2 separate regions of the Homo sapiens genome follow, and region 2 is linked to region 1. The links come from fine-mapping of genetic effects on gene expression. A gene starts in region 1. The other region holds a variant in brackets. All regions are shown on one strand. Distances are between the middles of the regions. Region 1 holds the start of ERCC2 (ERCC excision repair 2, TFIIH core complex helicase subunit). Region 2 has its middle 6.4 kb from the start of KLC3.

Evidence for each region.
Region 2: its variant is fine-mapped to the expression of ERCC2 in whole blood (INTERVAL, PIP above 0.99).

The regions. Positions count from the first base shown.
Region 1 is chr19:45,365,414-45,376,382 of GRCh38, forward strand. ERCC2 (ERCC excision repair 2, TFIIH core complex helicase subunit) reads right to left here and starts at 5,160. Exons shown (of 23, transcript NM_000400.4): 1 at 5,123-5,160; 2 at 4,720-4,819; 3 at 3,657-3,734; 4 at 3,517-3,579; 5 at 3,217-3,330. The coding sequence starts at 5,127. RefSeq lists enhancers at 3,914-4,755, 5,374-5,453, 9,928-10,765, 10,766-10,969.
Region 2 is chr19:45,328,828-45,339,796 of GRCh38, forward strand. It overlaps the pseudogene RPS16P9. Among named protein-coding and RNA genes, the nearest start is that of KLC3, 6.4 kb to the right of the region's middle. The variant C/T (reference allele first, on the strand shown) is at 6,056.

The DNA.
Region 1 (10,969 bases):
AGACCAGCCTGGCCAACATGGTGAAACCCTGTCTCCACTAAAAATACATTAGCCAGGCGTGGTGGCACATGCCTGTAATCCCAGTTACTCGGGAGGCTGAGGCAGGAGAATCGCTTGTATCCGGGAGGTGGAGGTTGCAGTGAGCAGAGATCGTGCCATAGCACTCCAGCCTGGGCGACAGAGTGAGACACCATCTCAAAAAAATAAGTAAAAATAAAAATACAAAAATGAGCCAGGTGTGGTGGTGCACACCTGGAATCCCAGCTACTCGGGAGGCTGAGGCAGGAGAATCCCTTGAACCCAGAAGGCAGAGGTTGCAGTGAGCCGAGATCATGCCACTGTACTCCACCCTGGGCCACGGAGCCAGACTCCCTCTCAAAAAAAAAAAGAGTAGCAAAATTGTTACATTCTTACAACTACAAGTTATACATACATATTTTTGGAGACAAGTCCCTCTGCTACTCAGGCTGGAATGCAGTGGCCCAATCACGGCTCACTACATCCTTGACCTCCCAGGCTCAAGTGATCCTTCCCCCACTCAGCCTCCCGAGTAGCTGCGGCCACAGGTGTGCACCACCATGCCCGGCTAATTTTTGTCTTCTTAGTTGAGATGAGGTCTTGCTATGTTGCCCAGGCTGGTCTCAAACTCCTGGTCTCAAGCAATCCTCCCACCTCAGCCTCCCAAAGTGCTGGGATTACAGGCTGAGCCACTGCGCCCAGCCAGCCAAAACTAATATTTTATTTTTTGAGACGGAGTCTTGCTCTGTTGCCCAGGCTGGAGTGCAATGGCACGATCTTGGCTCACCACAACCTCCGCCTCCCAGGTTCAAGCGATTCTCCTGTCTCAGCCTCCCGAGTAGCTGGGATTACAGACATGTGCCACCACACCCGGCTAATTTTGTCTTTTTAGTAGAGACAGGGTTTCTCCATGTTGATCAAGCTGGTCTCGAACTCCTGATCTCAGGTGATCCACCCGCCTCGGCCTCCCAAAGTGCTGGGATTATAGGTGTGAGCCACCGTGCCCAGCCCAAAACTAATATTTTAAAACAATAAGCCTGAAAAATCTTTAGCATATAGGTTGAAGATAACTACTTCATCCTTGGAAATGCCAAAACGCATGGAACCTTGGCAGGGCCTAAGAATCAAAGGAGGTTCCACACAGTCTGGGACTCCCCTTACCCCTGACCTGCTCTGTACCCTCTAAGGCACCATCACAGCCTAAGGCTTTTTCTGAAGAACAAATCCTTTTCCTACGCCAAAAGGAAAGCTCCAAGGCAGCCAGCCCTTCCTTCTCCATTTCCCCTTTCATCAGTCACCGAGGCCTGTGCTCTTTGTCATCCACTAGATGTATTATTTCTCACATATTCTTACAAATAATGTGATATAATATATAGTCTGTGGGCCCAGTGTGGGAGTTTGAGACCAGCCCGGCCAACATGATGAAACCCCATCTCTACTAAAAATACAAAAAACTAGCAGGGCGTGGTGGTGGGTGCCTGTAATCCCAGCTACTCAGGAAGCTGAGGCAGAAGAATCACTTGAACCTCGGAGGTGGAGGTTGTGGTGAACCGAGATCACGCCACTGCACTCCAGCCTGGGCAACAAGAGTGAAACTCCATTTCAAAAATAATAATAATAAATAAGGCTGGGCACGATGGCTCATGCCTGTAATCCCAGCACTTTGGGAGGCTGAGGCGGGAGGATCACAAGGTCGGGAGTTAGAGACCAGCCTAACCAACATGGTGAAACACCGTCTCTACTAAAAACACACAAATTAGCCGGGTGTAGTGGGGCACCTGTAATCCTAGCTACTCAGGAGGCTGAGGCAGGAGAATTGCTTGAACCCGGGAGGCGGAGCTTGTAGTAAGCCAAGATCACTCCCCTGCACTCCAGGCTGGGTGACAGAGTGAGACTCCGTCTCAAAAACAAAACAAAACAAAAATATATATATATATACACACACACACACACACACACACACACACACATATAAAAACATATATACACACACATATATATGTAAGTATAATATATACACATATATACATTCTGTGGGTTACCACATGTAAAGTATTCAGAACAGTGCCTGGCACACAGTGAGTACAATTTTTTTTTTTTTTTGAGACGGAGTTTCACTCTTGTTGCCCAGGCTGGAGTGCAGTGGCGCGATCTCGGCTCACTGCAACCTCCCCCTCGGGAGTTCGAGCAATTCTCCTGTCTCAGCCTCCCAAGTAGCTGGGATTACAGGCATGTGCCCAGCTAATTTTTCAATTTTTTTTCAGTAGAGACGGGGTTTCTCCATATTGGCCAGGCTGGTCTCAAACTCCCGACCTCAGGTGTCCACCCGCCTCGGCCTCCCAAAGTGCTGGGATTATAGTCGTGAGTCACCATGCCCAGCCAAGTACAATGATTTTATAGCATAATTTAATGATAACTAATATTGTATTTGTCATATATCATTATGCATATAAATATCATGACAATTTCTTTTTTTTTTTTTTTAAGACAGAGTCTCACTCTGTCACCCAGGCTGGAATGCAGTGGCATGACCTCAGCTCACTGCAACCTCTGCCTCCTGGGTACAAGCGATTGGCATTACCGACGTGTACACCACCACCCCCGGCTAATTTTTGTATTTTTAGTAGAAATGGGGTTTCGCCGTGTTGGCCAGGATGGTCTCGAACTCCTGACCTCAAATGATCTGCCCACCTCAGACTCCCAAAGTGCTGGGACTACAAGCGTGAACCACTGCACCTGGCCTATCATGAGAATTTCTAACATTCTTTTAGCTCTTTGTACATGCTAAGGGCATCGGCTGCAACATTTCACCCAATTTTATCATCAGCAACCTTATGAAGCAGGTACATAATTATCCCCATTTTACAGAAAGGAAGACTGAGGCCCAGGTGGCAGAAAATGCCTCTCCATAAATACTGGGCTAGTAAGTTTCAGAGCCAGGAAACCAGGCTTGCCAGAGACTCTAAGAGCTGCCTTTTTAACCTCTCCTAGGCCTGGGTAGAATTTGAAGACTCCCTGGAGGAAGTGTGCTTGCCTGGGCCACGATGAATGAGAATTTGACCACTGAGACGGGAATTCTGTGTGTAGCCACTGCATGCCTTTGCAAGAGATATGGCCTGGGGATCCAGGACTTGTGGTTGGACGAAAGAGTTTTCTCTACCTCTGGGCTAAGGGCAAGGAGAAGGAACAGGTGCTCACCTCAGGGTGAATACACAAGTTTTTGCGGGAGCTCAGAGCCAGTCCCAGAAACGGCAGCTTCTCGCCCTCCTGCTTCTCATAGAAGTTGAGCAACTTTCGAAGCTCTTCAATCACCTACTCCAAAGTTGGGGGGCAGGGGGAGCTTGTGCTCATTGGAGGCACAAACCCCTGCCCTGCCAGGTCCCAGTCTCTTCCCCAGCTTCCCAAACACCCCCGAAAGCTGGTGACGGCCACCGCCAGGGGGACCAATAGGGCCTAGGGAACAGTGGGGCTGGAGCACCAGGATGAGTCCCAGCTTACCTTCTCAATCTCTGGCACAGTTCTTGAGCAGTAGATGAGTTTGGTCACCTCCAGCGGATATGCCTGCCGATAACAAGCGGACTCAGTCCCTGTCCCGCCCCTTCCTTTGTCTGCCTTTACGGGTTCAGCGCATCACTCACTCTCTGGTATGCCATGATCAGGGCCAACAGGGATACTGTCTTCCCGGTGCCTGAGGGCATCTCCAGGACTCCATGACCCTGCATGTTGGGGACCAGAGGGGCAACACACAGGGTCTCAGAACCTTGGGCACACAAACTCTGGGGACTCTCCCCGACCCCCAATGCCACCAACTCAGAACAGCAGGATAACACAGCAGCAGTTAAGATTGGGCAGTGGGTTTGAACCTCACTTCTGCCTCCTCCTTGTTGAGTGGTCTTAGGCAAGTACCTTCACCTCCCCAGACCTCAGTATCCCTATCTCTAAAATGAGCCTAAAGCCAGGCGTGGTGGCTCACACCTGTAATCCCAGCACTTTGGGAGGCTGAGGCAGGTGAACCACCTGAGGTCAGAAGTTCAAGACCAGCTGGGCCAACAAGGTGAAACCCCGTCTCTACTAAAAATACAAAAAATTAGCCAGATGTGGTGGCGCGCACCTGTAATTCAATCTCAAAAATAAATAAATAAAATAAAATGGGCCTAATAATAAAACCTTCCTCATAACATGACTATGAGGATTGTGAGAAATTGCAGGTTAAATATTTGGCACAGTAGCTGATATATAGTGAACTTTTCTCCCTTCTTTTTTAAGAGACAAGTGTCACTATTGCCCAGGCTGGAATGCAGTGGCACAATCATGGCTCACTGCAGCCTCCAACTCCTGGCCTCAAGCGATCCTCCTGCCTCAGCCTCCCGAGTAGGTGGGATTACAGGCGCCCGCCACCACACCTGGCTAATTTTTGTATTTTTAGTACAGACGGGGTTTCACCGTGTTGGCCAGGCTGGTCTCCAACTCCTGACCTCAAGTGATCCGCCCGCCTCGTCCTCCCAAAGCTCTGGGATTACAGGCGCGAGCCACCGCGCCCAGCCTATTCACCATTATTGTTTTAGATAACGGAAGATTATGGGGTCCTGGATTCCCAGGGACCTCGGACTTCTAAAATCCAGACGTCCTGCAATCTGTCTTAGGCCCAGGCGTGGCAGCCCCACCGGTCGAGTGGGCGGGTCGGGCCCACCGGCCACCCACCTTGGCGTCCAGCGTGCGTTTGAGCTCCCGCATGTAGGAGAACTGCTCGGGGTAGATGTAGTCGTACGGGAAGTAGACCAGGAGCCCGTCCACGTTGAGCCTGGCGGCAGGGGCTGCTGGGTCAGTTCCCGTCCCCTCAGCCCCTCTCCCGCCTCCACAGTGCCCGGTCGTCGAGCCCAGAGAAGGGTGACGGGCCCGGCGCCCCCGGTAACCCTCAGGTCCTCAGGAGCCTCGGGGCCCCCTCAGTGTCTCCTCGCTATCACTGCTGCTCCCTGCGGCTGCCCCCGTCCCACCCCTTCACCCTCCCCTCGCCCCCTTGGGGACCCAGGCGCGCCCACCGATGACCCCATCTTCAAGACCCCCCGCGCCCGCTAGCGAGCGCGACCCCCAGCCCCCTTCTCACTTCATGGCGCCGGCCGGACTGTGCAGCGGGGTCGACCCGCCTCCCTCATGAATATTCAGCGAGAGGCCGGGTCGTGGACATCCTCGAGGGCTCGCTCCACCTATATTACGAGACCATTGGCTAACCTGCCCGTCAATCCGCTAGGGCAGAGCCAATCGGGATACTGCGCGTGCGCACGGAAAAGCGAGGGCGGCTGACTCTCGGGTGAGGCGGTGCGGGAGGCGTCACTGAGGATCGTCGAGGGCCAATCAAAAAGAAAACATGGAAGGGAAAGAGCCGAGAGACTCGATCTCATTCACTAGAATTTGGTCCTCCTGCGCCTGCCAAGATTGTCTGAGTATTGATCGAACCCAGGAGTTCGAGATCAGCTTGAGCAAGATAGCGAGAACCCCCGCCCCTCCACCTCGTCTCAAAAAAAAAAAAAAATCGTCTCAGTAGCGAATAGTCTAACGGAGAATGACAGGGAAATTGGTGATCCTTTCTGGGCCCAAGAGTTAGAAATGGCTTTGCAGGCCGGGCGCGGTGGCTCAAGCCTGTAATCCCAGCACTTTGGGAGGCTGAGGCAGGTGGATCACCTGAGGTCGGGAGTTCAAGACCAGCCTGACCAACATGGAGAAAACCTGTCTCTACTAAAGATACAAAATTAGCCGGGCGTGCTGGCAAATGCTTGTAATCCCAGCTACTCGGGAGGCTGAAGCAGGAGAATTGCTTGAACCTGGGAGGCAGAGGTTGCAGTGAGCAGAGATGGCGCCGTCGCACTCTAGCCTGGGCAACAAAAGCGAAACTCCATTTCAAATATTAATAATAATAACTAATAAATAAAACATAAATGCTAGCTTTTGTTTGTTTCTTCAACAAATAGCTATGTGGCATCTACCATGTGTCTGATCCTGTGCTGGCCCCTGGGAACAGAAAGGTGACCATGACAGCCTCAGCACCTGCCCTCAAAGAACAGATTTTTTTCCTTGAGACAGGGTCTTTCTCTGTCGCCAAGGCTGGAGTGCAGTGGCACAGTCACAGCTCACTGCAGCCTCCACCTCTTGGGCTCAAGCGATCCTCCCACCTCAGCTTCCAGAGTAGCTGGGACCACAGGTGTGCACCACCAAGCCCAGCTAAGTTTTATTTTTTAAATTTTTTTAGAGACGAGGTCTCACCACGTTGCCCAGGCTGGTTAAACTCGCAGGTTCAAGTGATCCTCTCCCCTCAGCCTTTCAAATTGTTGGGATTACAGGGGTGAGGCACCAGGCCTGGCCTCAAAGAACAGATATTAAATATACAAATGAATATATGATTACAGCCTGGAGTGGTGGCTCGTGCCTGTGGTTCCAACACTTTGGAAGGCCAAGGCGAGTACATTGCTTGAGCTCAGGAGCTAGAGACCAGCCTGGGCAACATGGTGAAAACCCGTCTCTACAAAAAATGCAAAAATTAGCTGGGCGTGGTGGCGTGCACCTGTAGTCCCAGATACTCAGGAGGCTGAGGTGGGAGAATCACCTGGGCCTGGGAGGCAGAGGTTGCAATGGGCAGTGATTGTGCCACTGCACTCCAGCCTGGGCAACAGGAGTGAAAACCTATCTCAAATGTGTGTGTGTGTGTGTGTGTGTGTGTGTGTGCGCACGTGTATAATCACAAGTACAAAAGTGCTGTGAAGGAAAACTTCAAGTCACCATAAAGATTGATTATGGGCTGGGTGCAGTGGCTCATGCCTGTAATCCCAGCACTTTGGGAGGCCAAGGCAGATGGATCACGAGGTCAGGAGTTCAAGACCAGCCTGGTCAACATGGTGAAACCCTATCTCTACTAAAAAAAAAAAAAAAAAAAAAAAAGCCAGGCATAGTGGCATGCATCTGTAATCCCATCTACTCGGGAGGCTAAAGCAGGAGAATTGCTTGAACCCAGGAGGCAGAAGTGAGCCAAGATCACGCCACTGCACTCCAGCCTGCGTGACAGAGCAAGACTCCGTCCCAGAAAAAGAAAAAAAAAAAAGACTTATTATGACAGGATGTCTACTGTCAACTGTGGGGTGTGAGTGTTGGCCAAGTGATCAGAGAAGGCTTCGTGGAAGAAGCGAGGTTTGAGTAGAGCCAGAAAATAATTAGAAGAGATCAACCAGCAAGAGGGGATGGATGAGAGAAGTGAGAAAGGTGTTCCAGGGAGAGAGACCATCATACACAAAAGCTCTAGGCCAGAAGAAAGCTGAGGCCTGTGAGTGCTGAAAGGAAGCCTGTGGGGGTGGAGCTCTGAGTTGAGCACAGGGAGCAGAGAAAGGGCAGCTGGAGGGGAAGGCAGGGGCAGATCGAAATCTCTTTTTTAAATTAATTAATTCTTAATTTATTTATTTTTGAGACAAGGTCTCACTCTTTCGCCCAGACTGGAGTACAGTGGCACAATCTCAGCGCACCGCAACCTCTGCCACCCAGGCTCAAGCAATTCTCTGGCCTCAGCCTCCCTAGTAGCTGGGATTACAGGTGCGCACCACTACTGCCCAGCTAATTTTTATACTTTTAGTAGAAACGGGGTTTCACTATGTTGGCCAGGCTGGCCTCAAACTCCTGACCTCAAAAGATCCACCCACTTCAGCCTCCCAAAGTGCTGGGATTACAGGTGTGAGCCACCCTTCCCGGCTGTATTTTTGGAGACAGAGTCTTGCTCTGTCCCAGCCTGGAGTATGGTGGTGTGAATTTGGCTCATTGCCACCTTGACCTCCAGGGCTCAAGTGATCCTCCCACCTCAGCCTCCTGAGTAGCTGGGACTGCGGGTACACGACACCACGCCTGGTTAATTTTTTTTAATTTTTTGTAGAGACGAGGGTATCTCACTATGTTGTCCAGGCTGGTTGAACTCCTGAGCTCAAGCAATTCTCCCACCTCAGCCTCCCAAAGTGGTGGGATTACAGACGTGAGCCACTGTGCCCGGCTTAATTTATTTACATAAATTTTTTTATGTTTACTTTTCTATCTCCTACAGGAAGAAAATATATTTTGTTATTGACAGGGTCTCGCTATGTTGCCCAGGCTGGTATTGGGCTCAAGCCATCCTGTTCCCTCAGCCTCCCAAAGTACTGGGATTACAAGCGTGAGCCTCTGCATCCAGCCCAGATCCAAAATCTTTACTGTCACCTACAGAGTCCTCTGTAACTAGCTTACTGCTCATCATCCCCATACCAACCCACCTTACTGCTCTGATCTCCTCCTCTCTCTCCCCCAGCTCATTTTGTTTCAGCTATGCTGGTCTCCTTGCTGTCTCTAAAACATAACAAGCACATCCCATCTCAGGGCCTTTGCACCAGCTATTTTGTCTGCCTGGAATGCTGTTTCCCCTGATAGCCATGTGGCTGACACACTCACCTCCCTCAGCTCTTTGCTCAATTGTCAACTTCTCGGCCCGGCATGGTGGCTCACACCTGTAATCCTACCACTTTGGGAGGCTGAGGTGGGCAGATCACCTGAGATCAGGAGTTCGAGACCAGCCTGGCCAAGATGGTGAAATCCCGTCTCTACTAAAAATACAAAAATTGGCAAAGCATGGTAGCACATACCAGTAATCCTAGCTACCCGGGAGGCTGAGGCAGGAGAATTGCTGGAACCCGGGAGGCAGAGGCTGCAGTGAGCCAAGATCATGCCACTGTACTCCAGCCTGGGTGACAAAGCAAGACTCTGTCTCAAAAAAAAAAAAGTCTCCTTCTCAATGAGGGCTTCCTGACCACCAAATTAAATCTACCTCCTAGACACACACACACACGCACGCACGCACGCACACACACACACGCACGCACGCACACACACACACACACACACACTATATCCCCTTTCCCTGCTTTATTGTTCTTGAGAGCTCATTTAACCATGTGACATGCTGAATATTTTACTTATTTATTTTGTTTAGAAAGCTCCTGGCTGGGCGCGGGGGCTCACGCCTGTAATCCCAGCACTTTGGGAGGCTGGAACAGGTGGATCATGTGAGGTCAGGAGTTCCAGACCAGCCTGACCAACACGGTGAAACCTCATCTCTATTAAAAATGCAAAAATTAGCTGGGTGTGGTGTCGCATGCCTGTAATCCCAACTACTCAGAAGGCTGAAGCAGGAGAATCGCTTGAACCTGGGAGGCAGAGGTTAACGCTGAGCCGAGATCGCGCCATTGCACTCCAGCCTGGGCAACAAGAGTGAAACTCTGTCTCGAAAAAAACAAAAGTCAGCTCCATGGCAGGAGTGATGGCTCACGCCTATAATCCCAGCACTTTGTGAGGCCGAGGCGGGCGGATCACTTGAGGTCAGGAGTTGGAGACCAGCCTGGCCAACATGGTGAAACCTCATCTCTACTAAAAATACAAAAATTAGCCGGGCGTGGTGACACATGTCTGTAGTCCCAGCTACTTGGGAGGCTGAGGCTGGAGAATGGCTTGAACCTGGGAGGTAGAGGTTGCAGTAAGCCAAGATCGCGCCATTGCTCTCCATCCTGGGCAACAGACTCCGTCTCAGAAAGGAAGAAAGAAGGAAAGAGAGAAAGAGAGAAAGAGACAGAGAGAGAGAGAGAAAGGGAGAAAGAGAGAAAGGATGGAAGGACCCTGACAAGCACTGTTGCATAAAAGTTTCTTTTCTCTCTCTTTTTTTTTTTTTTTTTTTTTTGAGACAGGGTCTCACTTCTGTTGCTCCAGCTGAAGTGCAGTGGTGAGAACATGGCTCAGTGCAGCCTCAACTTCCCAGGCTTAAGTGATCCTGCCACCTCAGCCTCCTGAGTAGCTGGGACTGTAGGTGTGCACCACCGTGCCTAGCTAATTTTTTGTATTTTTAGTAGAGACATGGTTCCGCCACGTTGCCCAGGCTGGTCTTGAACTCCTGGGCTTAAGGGATCTGCCCGCCATGGCCTCCCAAAGTGCTGGGATTACCAGCGTGAGCCACTGTACCCAGCCTGAGTATAGGTTTCTGATAAATTTTAGGATCATATTGTTTGGACTGGGTAAGAATTTCCAGAACTCTAATGAAGAAACTGACTGGTTTATATTTTATTTTATTTTATTTTATTATTTTTGAGATGGATTTTCACTCTTGTTGCCCAAGCTGGATTGCAGTGGCACGATCTTGGCTCACCACAACCTCCGCCTCCCGGTTTCAAGTGATTCTCCTGCCTCAGCCTCCCCAGGAGCTGGGATTACAGGCACCCACCACCATGCTCGGCTATTTTTTTTTTTATTTTTTTATTTTTAGTAGAGACGGGGTTTCACCATGTTGGCCAGGCTGGTCTCGAACTCCTGACCTCAGGTGATCCACCTGCCTTGGCCTCCCAAAGCGCTGGGATTACAGGCATGAGCCACTGTGCAAGGCCTAGGCTGGTTTATAAAATTGCTAAACCAAGCAGAACATGAATTAAATACCAAGGAAATACTCTCCTAGATTGTCATGTTACATCAGCCAATACTAAAATTGTCAAGATACACAATTTGAATGAACTCCATGGTCCAAGTCGAATTATCTATGATATTACCCATCTAATAAACAGCACTATGTCCCTTAATGGGAGAAAAAGTTGGAGAATTTAAGAGAATATCAATCCAATGTTGGTTGGGTGCAGTGAATCATGTCTATATTCCCAGCACTTTGGGAGGCCAAGGCAGGAGGATCACTTGAGCCCAGGAATTCAAGGCCAGCCTCGGCAACACGGTGAGATCCTGTCTCTACGGAAAATTAAAAAAAAAAAAAGAGAGAGATTAGTGGGATGTGGTGCCTATAGTCCCAGCTACTTGGGAGGCTGAGGCGGGAGGATCATTTAAGCCTGGGACGTTGAGGTTGCAGTGAACCATGAGTGAGACTCATCTCAAAAAAAAAAAAAAAATGGCGATCACTAGAGGA
Region 2 (10,969 bases), 37 kb before region 1:
CCTTGGCATCCCAAAGTGCTAGGATTACAGGCAGGAGCCACTGCGCCTGGCCTAATTTTTGTATTTTTAATAGAGATGGGGTTTCACCATGTTGGCCAGGCTAGTCTTCAACTCCTGACCTCAAGTGATCCGCCCGTCTCAGCCTCCCAAAGTGCTGGGATTACAGGCATGAGCCACTGCACCCAGCCCCAGATCAATCAATTTTATCAAATTAGCTATACATTTCCCTCTAGGTGCTGCTTTAGGTTTATCCCAGGTTGTTTTTTGTTTTGTTTTGTTTTTTTCTTGATGTTGTTTGTTTGTTTAGAGACAGGATCTCACTGTCTCCCAGGCTGGAATGCAGTGGTATGATCTTGGCTCATTGCAGCCTCCATCTCCTGAGCTCAGCGATCCTCCCACCTCAGCCTCCTCAGTAGCTGGGATCACAGATGTGTGCCACCATGCCCAGCTAATTTTTGTATCTTTTGTAAAGACACAGTCTTGCTATGTTGCCCAGCCTGGTCTTGAACTCCTGACCTCAAGCAATCCTCCTGCCTCAGCCTCACAAAGTGCTGGGATTGCAGGTGTAAGCCACCATACCTGGCGTGTTTTTTTTTTTTTTTTTTGAGACGGAGTCTCGCTCTGTTGCCCAGGCTGGAGTGCAGTGGTGTGATCTCGGCTCACTGCAAGCTCTGCCTCCCGGGTTCACACCATTCTCCTGCCTCAGCCTCCTGAGTAGCTGGGACTGCAGGTGCCTGCCACCACATCCAGCTAAATTTTTTGTGTGTTTTTCGTAGAGACAGCGTTTCACTGTGTTAGCCTGGATGGTCTTGATCTCCTGACCTCGTGATCCACCTGCCTCAGCCTCGCAAAGTGCTTGGATTACAGGCGTGAGCCACCGGCCCGGCCCATACCTGGCCTGTTTTTATATTCTATTATCATTTCAAATGTATTTTTATTGGAACTGTTATATTTGGAGTGTATGGATGTTCACACTTATTCATATTTTATTTTCTCAAATTTACTCTTTTTTTTTTTTTTTTTTTTTTGAGATCGAGTTTCGCTCTTGTTGCCCAGGCTGGAGTGCAATGGCGGATCTCGGCTCACCGCAACCTCTGCCTCCCAGGTTCAAGCGATTCTCCTGCCTCAGCCTCCCGAGTAGCTGGGATTATAGGCATGTGCCACCATGCCTGGCTAATTTTTGTATTATTAGTAGAGACAGGATTTCACCACGTTGGCCAGGCTGGTCTCAAACTCCTGACTTCTTGATCCTCCTGCCTCGGCCTCCCAAAGTACTGGGATTACAGGCGTGAGCCACTGCGCCCGGCCAAATTTACTGTTTTTATTGAGGCATAATTTATTTTCTTTCCTTCCTTCCTTCCTTCCTTCCTTCCTTCCTTCCTTCCTTCCTCCCTCTCTTCCTCTCTTCCTCCCTCCCTCCTTTTTTTTTTTTGAGACGGAGTCTCACCCTGTCACCCAGGCTGGAGTGCAATGGCGTGATCTCGGCTCACTGCAACCTCTGCCTCCCGGGTTCAAGCGATTCTCCTGCTTCAGCCTTCAGAGTAGCTGGGACTACAGGTGCGCGCCACCACACCTGGCTCATTTTTTGTATCTTTAGTAGAAACGGGGTTTCACCATGTTGGCCAGGCTGGTCGAACTCCTGACCTCGTGATCTGCCCACCCAGGCCTCCCAAAGTGCTGGGATTACAGGTGTGAGCCACCATGCCCGGCCTATTGAGGCATAATTTCTATTTGGTGAAGTGCCCTAATCTTAAAATCAATGAACTTTTATATTCGTGTACATGTGAATAAGCATCACCAGGATCTAAACAGAGACTACTACCAGCTCCCAAAGAAACTCTCTCATGTCCCCTCCCAGTGAATGTCTCTCTCTCCTCCAAGAAAATGTTCTCGCTGAGCGCAGTGGGAGGCCTAGGTGGGTGGATCACTTGAGGTCAGGAGTTCGAGACCAGCTTGACCAACATGGTGAAACCCCGTCTCTACTAAAAATACAAAAAATTAGCCAGGCGTGGTGATGCATACCAGTAATCCCAGCTACTTGGGAGGCTGAGGCAGGAGAATCTCTTGAACCCGGGAGATAGAGGTTGCAGTGAGCCGATATAGTGCCACTGTACTCCAGTCTGGGCAACAACAGTGAAATTCCATCTCAAAGAAAAGAAGAAGGCCGGGCCACCCTCTGCCTCCTGGGTTCAAGCGATTCTCCTGCCTCAGCCGCCTGAGTAGCTGGGATTACAGACACGTGCCACCACGCCTGGCTAATTTTTGTATTTTTAGTAGAGACGGGGTTTCACCATGTTGGTCAGGCTGGTCTTGAACTGCTGACCTTGTGATCTGCCCACCTCAGCCTGAAAAGTGCTGGGATTATAGGCAGGAGTGACCGCGCCCGGCCCATTTGTCTAATTTCTTTTGCTCAACTTTTTTTCTCTTCGGATTCCTTTTTTTCTTTCTTTTTTTCTTTTTGTACAGATGGGGTGGGTCTTGCTATGTTGCCCAGGCTGGTCTTGAACTCTCAGCCTCAAGTGAGCCTGCAGCCTCCAATTCCAGGGCTCCAGGCTTAGCCTCCCAAAGCGCTGGTGTGGCAGAGAATAGGGAATTAGGGTAACTGGGGGTTCATCAGGTACAGCCAGTTTGCATAAGCAACAGAATAGCAGGTGCAGTCAGTTCATGGAGGCAGGAGAGCCACAGGTGCATACAGGCTCTATTCTCCCTCCCATGATAATAAGCCACTCCAGCCTCTGATTGACTGCGAGCCAGGTCTCCACTTGGGCTCTGATTGGTCATGAGCCAACCCTTCATAGAGTGTAACCAATTGGAGGCCTCTGAAGGGCACCTAGGGGTGTTGCCGGGTCCTTTTTAGCTTAATAAAAACCCTAACTGGCAGGCCTGGCGCGGTGGTTCGCCTGTAATCCCAGCACTTTGGGAGGTCAAGGCGGCCAAATCACTCAAGATCAGGAATTTCGGACCAGCCTGGCCAACATGGTGAAATCCCGTCTCTACTAAAAGTACAATAATTAGCCGGGTGTGGTGGCGCATCCGTGGTGGCTCGTGCTAGGAGTCCCAGCTACTCAGGAGGCTGAGGTAGGAGAATCGCTTGAACGCGGGAGGTAGAGGTTGCAGTGAGCTGAGATCATGTCACTGCACTCCAGCCTGGTCAACAGAGCGAGACTACGTCTCAAAAAAAAAACAAAGACAACCCTAATTGGGGAGGTGCTCCAGCCCGCTCCCACTCTGTGAATTGTCTTGGATAAATCTCTGCTTTGTCTTCTGTTGCTTCGTTCTTTTTTTCCTTTTTCTTTTTATTGAAACAGACTACCCCAAAATGCAATAACTTTTTGTTTGTTTGTTTGCTTTTGAGACGGAGTCTCGCTCTGTCACCCAGGCTGGAGTGCAGTGGCGCAATCTCGGCTCACTGCAAGCTCCGCCTCGTGGGTTCACGCCATTCTCCTGCCTCAGCCTCCCGAGTAGCTGGGACTACGGGCGCCCGCCACCACGCCCGGCTAATTTTTTGTATTTTTAGTAGAGACGGGGTTTCACTGCATTAGCCAGGATGGTCTCCATCCCCTGACCTCGTGATCCGCCCGCCTCAGCTTCCCAAAGTGCTGGGATTACAGGCGTGAGCCACCGCGCCCGGCCTAATAACTTTTTTTTGTTTTCTTTTTTTGACTCACTCTGAGGCCCAGGCTGGAGTGCAGTGGTGCGATCTTGGCGCACTGCAATTTCCACCTCCCAGGTTCAAGCGTTTCTCTTTCCTCAGCCTCCGGAGTAGCTGGGTTACAGGTGTGTACCACCACACCCAGCTAATTTTTTTTTCTTGAAATTTTAAAATCTCTCAAAAACTTATACAGGTGAATTTTGATCGTCATGATGGGCTTATTGGTAGGATTTTTGGTAACAAGCACGGGCACCAGGACCTCCAAACTTTTTGGACTCAGAGCGACGGGGATCAGCTACCAGCAGGGTCTGGTCATACTGGATGAGGATGTCTTTGATCTCCTTGGAAGACTCATCCGCATATTTCTGGTACTAGGCCACCAGGGCTCTGGAGATGGACTGACAGCATAAATCTAGGCCCCTTCACATGGACATGGATGTCCACACCAGCAAATCGCTCCTTGCCGGGACCGAGAAAGAGAACTGGCTCCAGCAGCTTGTATCGTAGTGTGCGCAGCTTGATCATCTCCAGGAGCCGCCCATTCACCTTGATGAGGCCATCGCCGTGTTTGCAGTGCACCACAGCTGTGGCTGTTTTCTTGCCACCGAAGACCTGCACAGATTGCAGCTGGCCCTCGGACCGCATGGCTGCGAGCGTGAACTAGAGACCCTCACCACGTGGTGCTGCAATCAGAAAAAAAAAAAAGCTAATTTTTTTTTTTTTTTTTTTTTGAGAGGGAGTTTCGCCCTTGTTGCCCAGGCCGGAGTGCAATGGCGTGATCTCGGCTTACTGCAACCTCCGCCTCCCCGGTTCAAGTGATTCTCCAGCCTCAGCCTCCTGAGTAGCTGGGATTACAGGTTTCTGCCACCACACCCGGCTAATTTTTGTATTTTTAGTAGAGACGGGGTTTCACCATGTTGGCCAGGCTGGTCTCAAACTCCTGACCTCAGGTGATCCACCCACCTCGGTCTCCCAAAGTGCCAGGATTACAGGCGTGAGCCACTGCGCCTGGCCATTTTATTTTTATTTTTATTTTTTTACATTTTATTTTTGGTTCATGGTTTTTTACATTTTATTTTGGTACAATTTTATTTTGGAGACAGGTTCTTACCTCTTGCCCCACTCTTTTTCACCCAAGCTGGAATACAGTGGTGCCATCATAGCTCACTGCAACCTTGACCTCTGGGGATCCCACCTCAATCTCCCAAGCAGCTGCAACTACAGGTGTGCGCCACCACACTTGGCTCATTTTAACTTTTTTTTTTTTTTGTGGAGATGGGGATCTTGCTATATTGCCCAGGCTGGTCTCAAACTCCTGGTCTCAAGCAATCCTCCTGCCTTGGCCTCTCAAAGTGCTGGGATTACAGGTGTGAGCCACCATGCCTGGTCAATAGCTCTAAAATGGATGTGGGGTTGGCTGACAGTTGGCCAATCCAGGCCGGGCTCAGATGGGAAGTTCTGCTTCATATGGGAACCTTGTGGAGTGCAGGCTGAGGGGAGAGGAAGCTCTCAGGGGAAGCCCGTCTCATGGTGATGCTGAGATGCAAAAAGAAATGTTCAAGGTCTCTTGAGGCCTAAGCTCAGAACTGACACGACTGTCACTTGTGCCCCTCTGCTATTGGCCAAAGCAAGTCACATGGCCACACCAAAAGTTCAAGGCCCATCATTTTGTCGTCCTCCACAGGTAAGGATTATATCAGGTGTGCTTTTCTTAAATGGGTCCACACACTCGTACATCCACACACGATCATATTCATGGAATATCTCTGGAAGTATATTGGAAACGGTCATCAGGTTTGCTTGCGGGAAGGGTGTCCGGGGATCAGGGAGAGAGAACGCTTACTTTCACTCTGTAGTCTTTTATTCTCTGTGTCTATGAACGTTTTTTCTGACTGCATTCCCTTTTTTTTTTTTTTTTTTTTTTTTTGAGATGGAGTCTCACTCTTTCGCCCAGGCTGGAGGGCAGTGGTGCTATCTTGGCTCACTGGAACCTCTGCCTCCCGGGTTCAAGCAATTCTCCTGCCTCAGCCTCCCGAGTAGCTGGGACTACTAGCACGTGCCACCATGCCCGGCTAATTTTTTGTGTGCCTTTTTTTTTTTTTTTTTTTTTTGAGACGGGGTCTTGCTCTGTCCCCCAGGCTGGAGTGCAGTGGCGCGATCTCGGCTCACTGCAATCTCTGCCTTCTGGGTTCATGCCATTCTCCTGCCTCAGCCTCCCGAGTAGCTGGGGCTACAGGCGCCAGCCACTGCACCCAGCTAATTTTTTGTATTTTTAGTAGAGACGAGGTTTCACCGTGGTCTCGATCTCCTGACCTCGTGATCCGCCCGCCTCGGCCTCCCAAAGTGCTGGGATTACAGGCGTGAGCCACTGCGCCCGGCCTTTGTGTGCATTTTTAGTAGAGA[C/T]GGGGTTTCACCATGTTGGCCGGGCTGGTCTCAAACTCCTGACCTCAAGTGATCCACCTGCCTTGGCCTCCCAAAGTGCTGGGATGACAGGCGTGAGCCACCACTCCTGGCCATTATTTTTTAAATTAAAAAATTATGGCCAGAAGGTGAAAATAGAAAAGCTCCCATCCTATGTACCCATTTTCCTGACGTGGCAAACTAAGGCCTTAAGGGATAGGGTGGAGTATTTGTTGGATATGCAAGCAATTTCTCCTCTCTGAGCCTCAGTTTCCTTTTTTATTTATTTTTTGAGACAGGCTGTCACTCTGTCACCCAGGCTGGAGTGCAGTGGTATGATAATAGCTCACTGCAGGCTCAGACTCCTGGGCTCAAGCAATCCCCCTGCTTCAGCCTCCTGAGTTGCTGAGACCACGTGTGACACATCACACATGGCTAATTTTTTTTTTAATTTTTTTTGGCAGGTGGGTGACGCCTGTAATTCCAGCACTTTGGGAGGCCAAGGCAGGCAGATCATTTAAGGTCAGGAGTTGGAGACCAGCCTAACCAACATGGTGAAACCCTGTCTATACTAAAAATACACAAAAATTAGCCGGGGGTGGTGGCGCATGTCTGTAGTCCCAGCTACTCAGGAGGCTGCGGCAGGAGAATTGCTTAAACCCAGGAGGCGGAGGTTGCAGTGAGCTGATATCGTGCCACTGCATTCCAGCCTGGGCGACAGAGCAAGACTCCATCTCAAAAAAATAAACAGGCTGGGCCCGGTGGCTCACGCCCATAATCCCAGCAGTTTGGGGGGCTGAGGTGGGCAGATCACTTGAGGTCAGGAGTTTGAGACCAGCCTGGCCAACATGGTGAAACCCCATGTCTACTAAAAATACAAAAAAATTAGCCAGGTGTGGTTCCTGTAATCCTAGCTACTCAGGTGGCTGAGGCAGGAGAATTGCTTTAGCCCAGGGCACGGAGGTTACAGTGAGCCAAGATCACGCCACTGCACTCCAGCCTGGGCGACAGAGTAAGACTCTATCTCAAAAAAAATAAATAAATAAATTTTTTTTTGTAGAGATAGGTTCATCCTATGTTCCCCAAGTTGGTCTCAAACTCCTAGGCTCCAGCAATCCTCCTGAAGCCCTGGGATTACAGGTATGAGTCACCACATCCGGCCAGTTTCCTCATTTTTAGGTGGGGCTGGTAATAGTGCCTACCTTGGGGGGTCAGCTACAAAGATTCTGGGGCTCTGCTACTCCTTGGCTGTGTGACCTAAGACAAGTTACTCAGCCTCTCTGTGCCTCATCTTTTTCACCTGTGGAATGGAGCGAATCATCGCAGCTGGTGTGAAGATTAACAATTTGTATATAGGAGTTGGCACAGGGCCAGTCTGGGGTAAGAACTCAAACATCAGCCATTGTTGGCGTTGTGCAAAAGTACTTGGAACACCGCTGGCCTAAAGGAAGGTTTTCCTGGCCAGGTGTGGTGGCTCACGCCTGTAATCCCAGCACTTTGGGAGGCCGAGGCAGGCAGATCACGAGGTCAGGAGATCAAGACCATTCTGGCTAACACGGTGAAACCCCGTCTCTACTAAAAATACAAAAATTAGCTGGGCATGGCGGTACGTGCCTATAGTCCCAGCTACTCCGGAGGCTGAGGCAGGAGAATTGTATGAACCTGGGAGGCGGAAGTTGTAGTGAGCCGAGATTGTGCCACTGCACTCCAGCCGGGGAGAAAGAGCATGACTCCGTCTCAAAAAAACAAAAACAACAACAGCAGCAACAAAAGCAAGAAAGGTTTTCCTTAGTTAACACTTTCTTCTTCTTTCAATCTTTATCTCATTTAAGTCTCACCTCAATGCTGTGTGATGAGTGTGATCATCCCCATTTTACTAGACGAGGAGACAGAGGCTCAGCCAGAGATCATTGTTCCCCCGGTTTACATGGAACAGAAATGGCAGGGCCAGGATTTAAACCTAGATCTGCCTGGCTCCCCGCCCGGCTCCATCCCCTGCCCTCCCCCAACACACATAGTATTTACCGGGTGCTACCCTGTTCTAAGCCTTTTCTGGGGGATTATACAGTAATCCTCACCACAGCCTTAAAGTAGGGTACCCTGTGAGTCTCGTTTGACAGACTAGAAATCTGAGGTCCAGAGAGGTTACTTCTTGGCTCAGAGGGTCACACAGCTAGCAAATGACCCAGCTGAGATTTGTCCCTGCTGGCCTGGCTCCAGTCCCTGCACTGCCTGTGGTAAGCGTGTAGCAGATCCAGATCCAATGTCCAGCGTCGTGAGGCCAAAAAAATGGGGGGCAGGGGGAAGGCTCTGCTGCCCCTCGATCCTGTGCTGTTGAAATAGCTGGAGCTAGCACTTTGGAAGGCCGAGGCGGGTAGATCACCTGAGGTCAGGAGTTCGAGACCAGCCTGGCCAACATGGCGAAACCCTGTCTATACTAAAAATATAAAAATTACCTGGGCGTGATGGTGCACACCTGTAATCCCAGCTACTCTGGAGGCTGAGGCAGGAGAATCATTTGAACCCGGGAGATGGAGGTTTCAGTGAGCCGAGATCATGCCATTGCACTCCAGCCTGGGCAACAGAGACACTGTCTTTTTTTTTTTTTTTTTAGGGGATGGAGTTTTGCTCTTGTTGCCCAGGCTGGAGTGCAATGACGCCATCTTGGCTCACTGCAACCTCCGCCTCCCTGGTTCAAGTGATTCTCCTGTCTTAGCCTCCTGACAAGCTGGAATTACAGGCCCATGCCACCAAGCCCGGCTAATTTTTGTAATTTTAGTAGAGACACGGTTTCATCATATTGGTCAGGCTGGTCTCGCCCTCCTGATCTCAGGTGATCCGCCCTCCTGATCTCAGGTGATCCGCCCTCCTAGGCCTCCCAAAGTGCTGGGATTATAGGCATGAGCCACCACTCCCAGTGAGATGCTGTCTTAATTAAAAAAAGGAAGAAAGAAAGAAATAGCTGGAGCTTGGCACAGTGGCTCATGCCTGTAATCCCAGGACTTTGGGAGGCCAAGGCAGGAGGATCGCTTGAGGTCAGGAGTTCAAAACCAGCCTGGGCAATATAGGGAGACCCCCATCTTTACAAAAAACAACAAAAAGTAGCTGGGTATGGTGGTGCATTTGTAGTCCCAGCTACCTGGGACTTGGGAGGCTGAGGAGGGAGCATTGCTTAAACCCGGGAAATCAAGGCTGCAGTGAGTTACGACTGCCACTGCACTCCAGCCTGGGTGACAGAGTGACACCTGTCTTTTAAAAAAGCTAGAGTAGGCCGGGCATGGTGGCTGACGCCTATAATCCCAGCACTCTGGGAGGCCGAAGTGGGTGGATCACCTGAGGTCAAGAGTTCAAGACCAGCCTGGCCAACATGGGAAACTCCATTTCTACAAAAATATAAAAATTAGCAAGGCATGATGGTGGGTGCCTGTAATCCCAGCTGCTTGGGAGGCTGGGGCGGGAGAATCGCTTGAACCTGGGAAGCGGAGGTTACACAATGAGCCAAGATCGTGCCACTGCACTCCAGCCTGGGCAACAGAGCAAGACTGTCTTAAAAAAAAAAAAATGCTGGAGTAGTTAGGATATGAGTTTGAATTTTTATTTCCATGATTCAATCAGCACCTATTCTCCCAAATGCCTTCTCTGCGTTGGGCCTGTGCTAGGTGGCACTGGGGACACAGTGGAGACTGACATGGCCCCTGGCCGCCTCCTCCCTTCTTGGGGCTCATAGTCTAATATGGGACTGACCTGTCTCCCCACACTGATGACCCAGAGTTGGCAGGGCTGGATGTGGGAGCCCAAGAGCCTGGAAACCTGGGAAATAAGAAAGGGCTTCCTGGAGGAGGAAGCATCAGCACTGGGGCTCAGACAACAGGGAAGTAGAGGGCACGTTGGCTGCAATTCGGAGGGAGCGCGGAGCTGTGCCGAGTCTGGAGTTTGGTCCACGGACCAGCAGCGCCCTCTGCTGGAAGCATTTCATAGTGTAGTGACCGGGGTACCGCGCGCATTGAGCCATGTATGTATGTATGCATTTATTTATTTTTGAGATGGAGTTTCGCTCTTGTTGCCCAGGCAGGAGTGTAATGGTGTGATCTCGGCTCACTGCAACCTCTGCCTCTGGGGTTCAAGCGATTCGCCTGCCTCAGCCTCCCAAGTAGCTGGGATTACAGGCGTGCGCTACCACACCCGGCTAATTTTGTATTTTTAGTAGAGATAGGGTTTCACCATGTTGGCCAGGCTGGTCTCGAACTCCTGACCTCAAGTGATCCAGCCCCCTCGGCCTCCCAAAGTGCTGGGATTACAGGTGTGAGCCACTGCGCCGTCCTCAAGTTATATTAGAATCGTGTCCTCCCAGCTTTGGCCAGCTTACTATTCTAGGACTTGATTCCTTCATTCAGTCACAATTTATTGAGCACCGACTTTGCATCAAGCTCTTGCTGAAGATAACAGTGCTGACAATATACAGCCCTGCCCTCAGAGCTTATATAGTAGAGGAGAAAAAGTGAACCCATAATATACAGTCAGTAGCGAGTATTTACTAAGTACTTTCTATTTGCGAGGCCCTGATAAAAGTACTGTCCTGGCCAGGCGCGGTGGCTCACGCCTGTAATTCCAGCACTTTGGGAGGTCGAGGTGGGCAGATCACCTAAGGTCAGGAGTTCGAGATCAGCCTGGCTAACATGGGGAAACCCCGTCTCTACTAAAAATGGAAAAATTAGCTGGGCATGGTGGCGGGCGCCTGTAATCCCAGCTACTCGGGAGGCTGAGACAGGAGAATGACTTGAACCCAGGAGTTGCAGTGAGCCAAGATAAGATAGCGCCATTGTACTCCAGCCTGGGTAACACAGCGAGACTGTGTCTCAAAAAAAAAAAAAAAAAAAAAAAAGTACTGTCCCTGTATTAGTTAACATTCAATTCTCA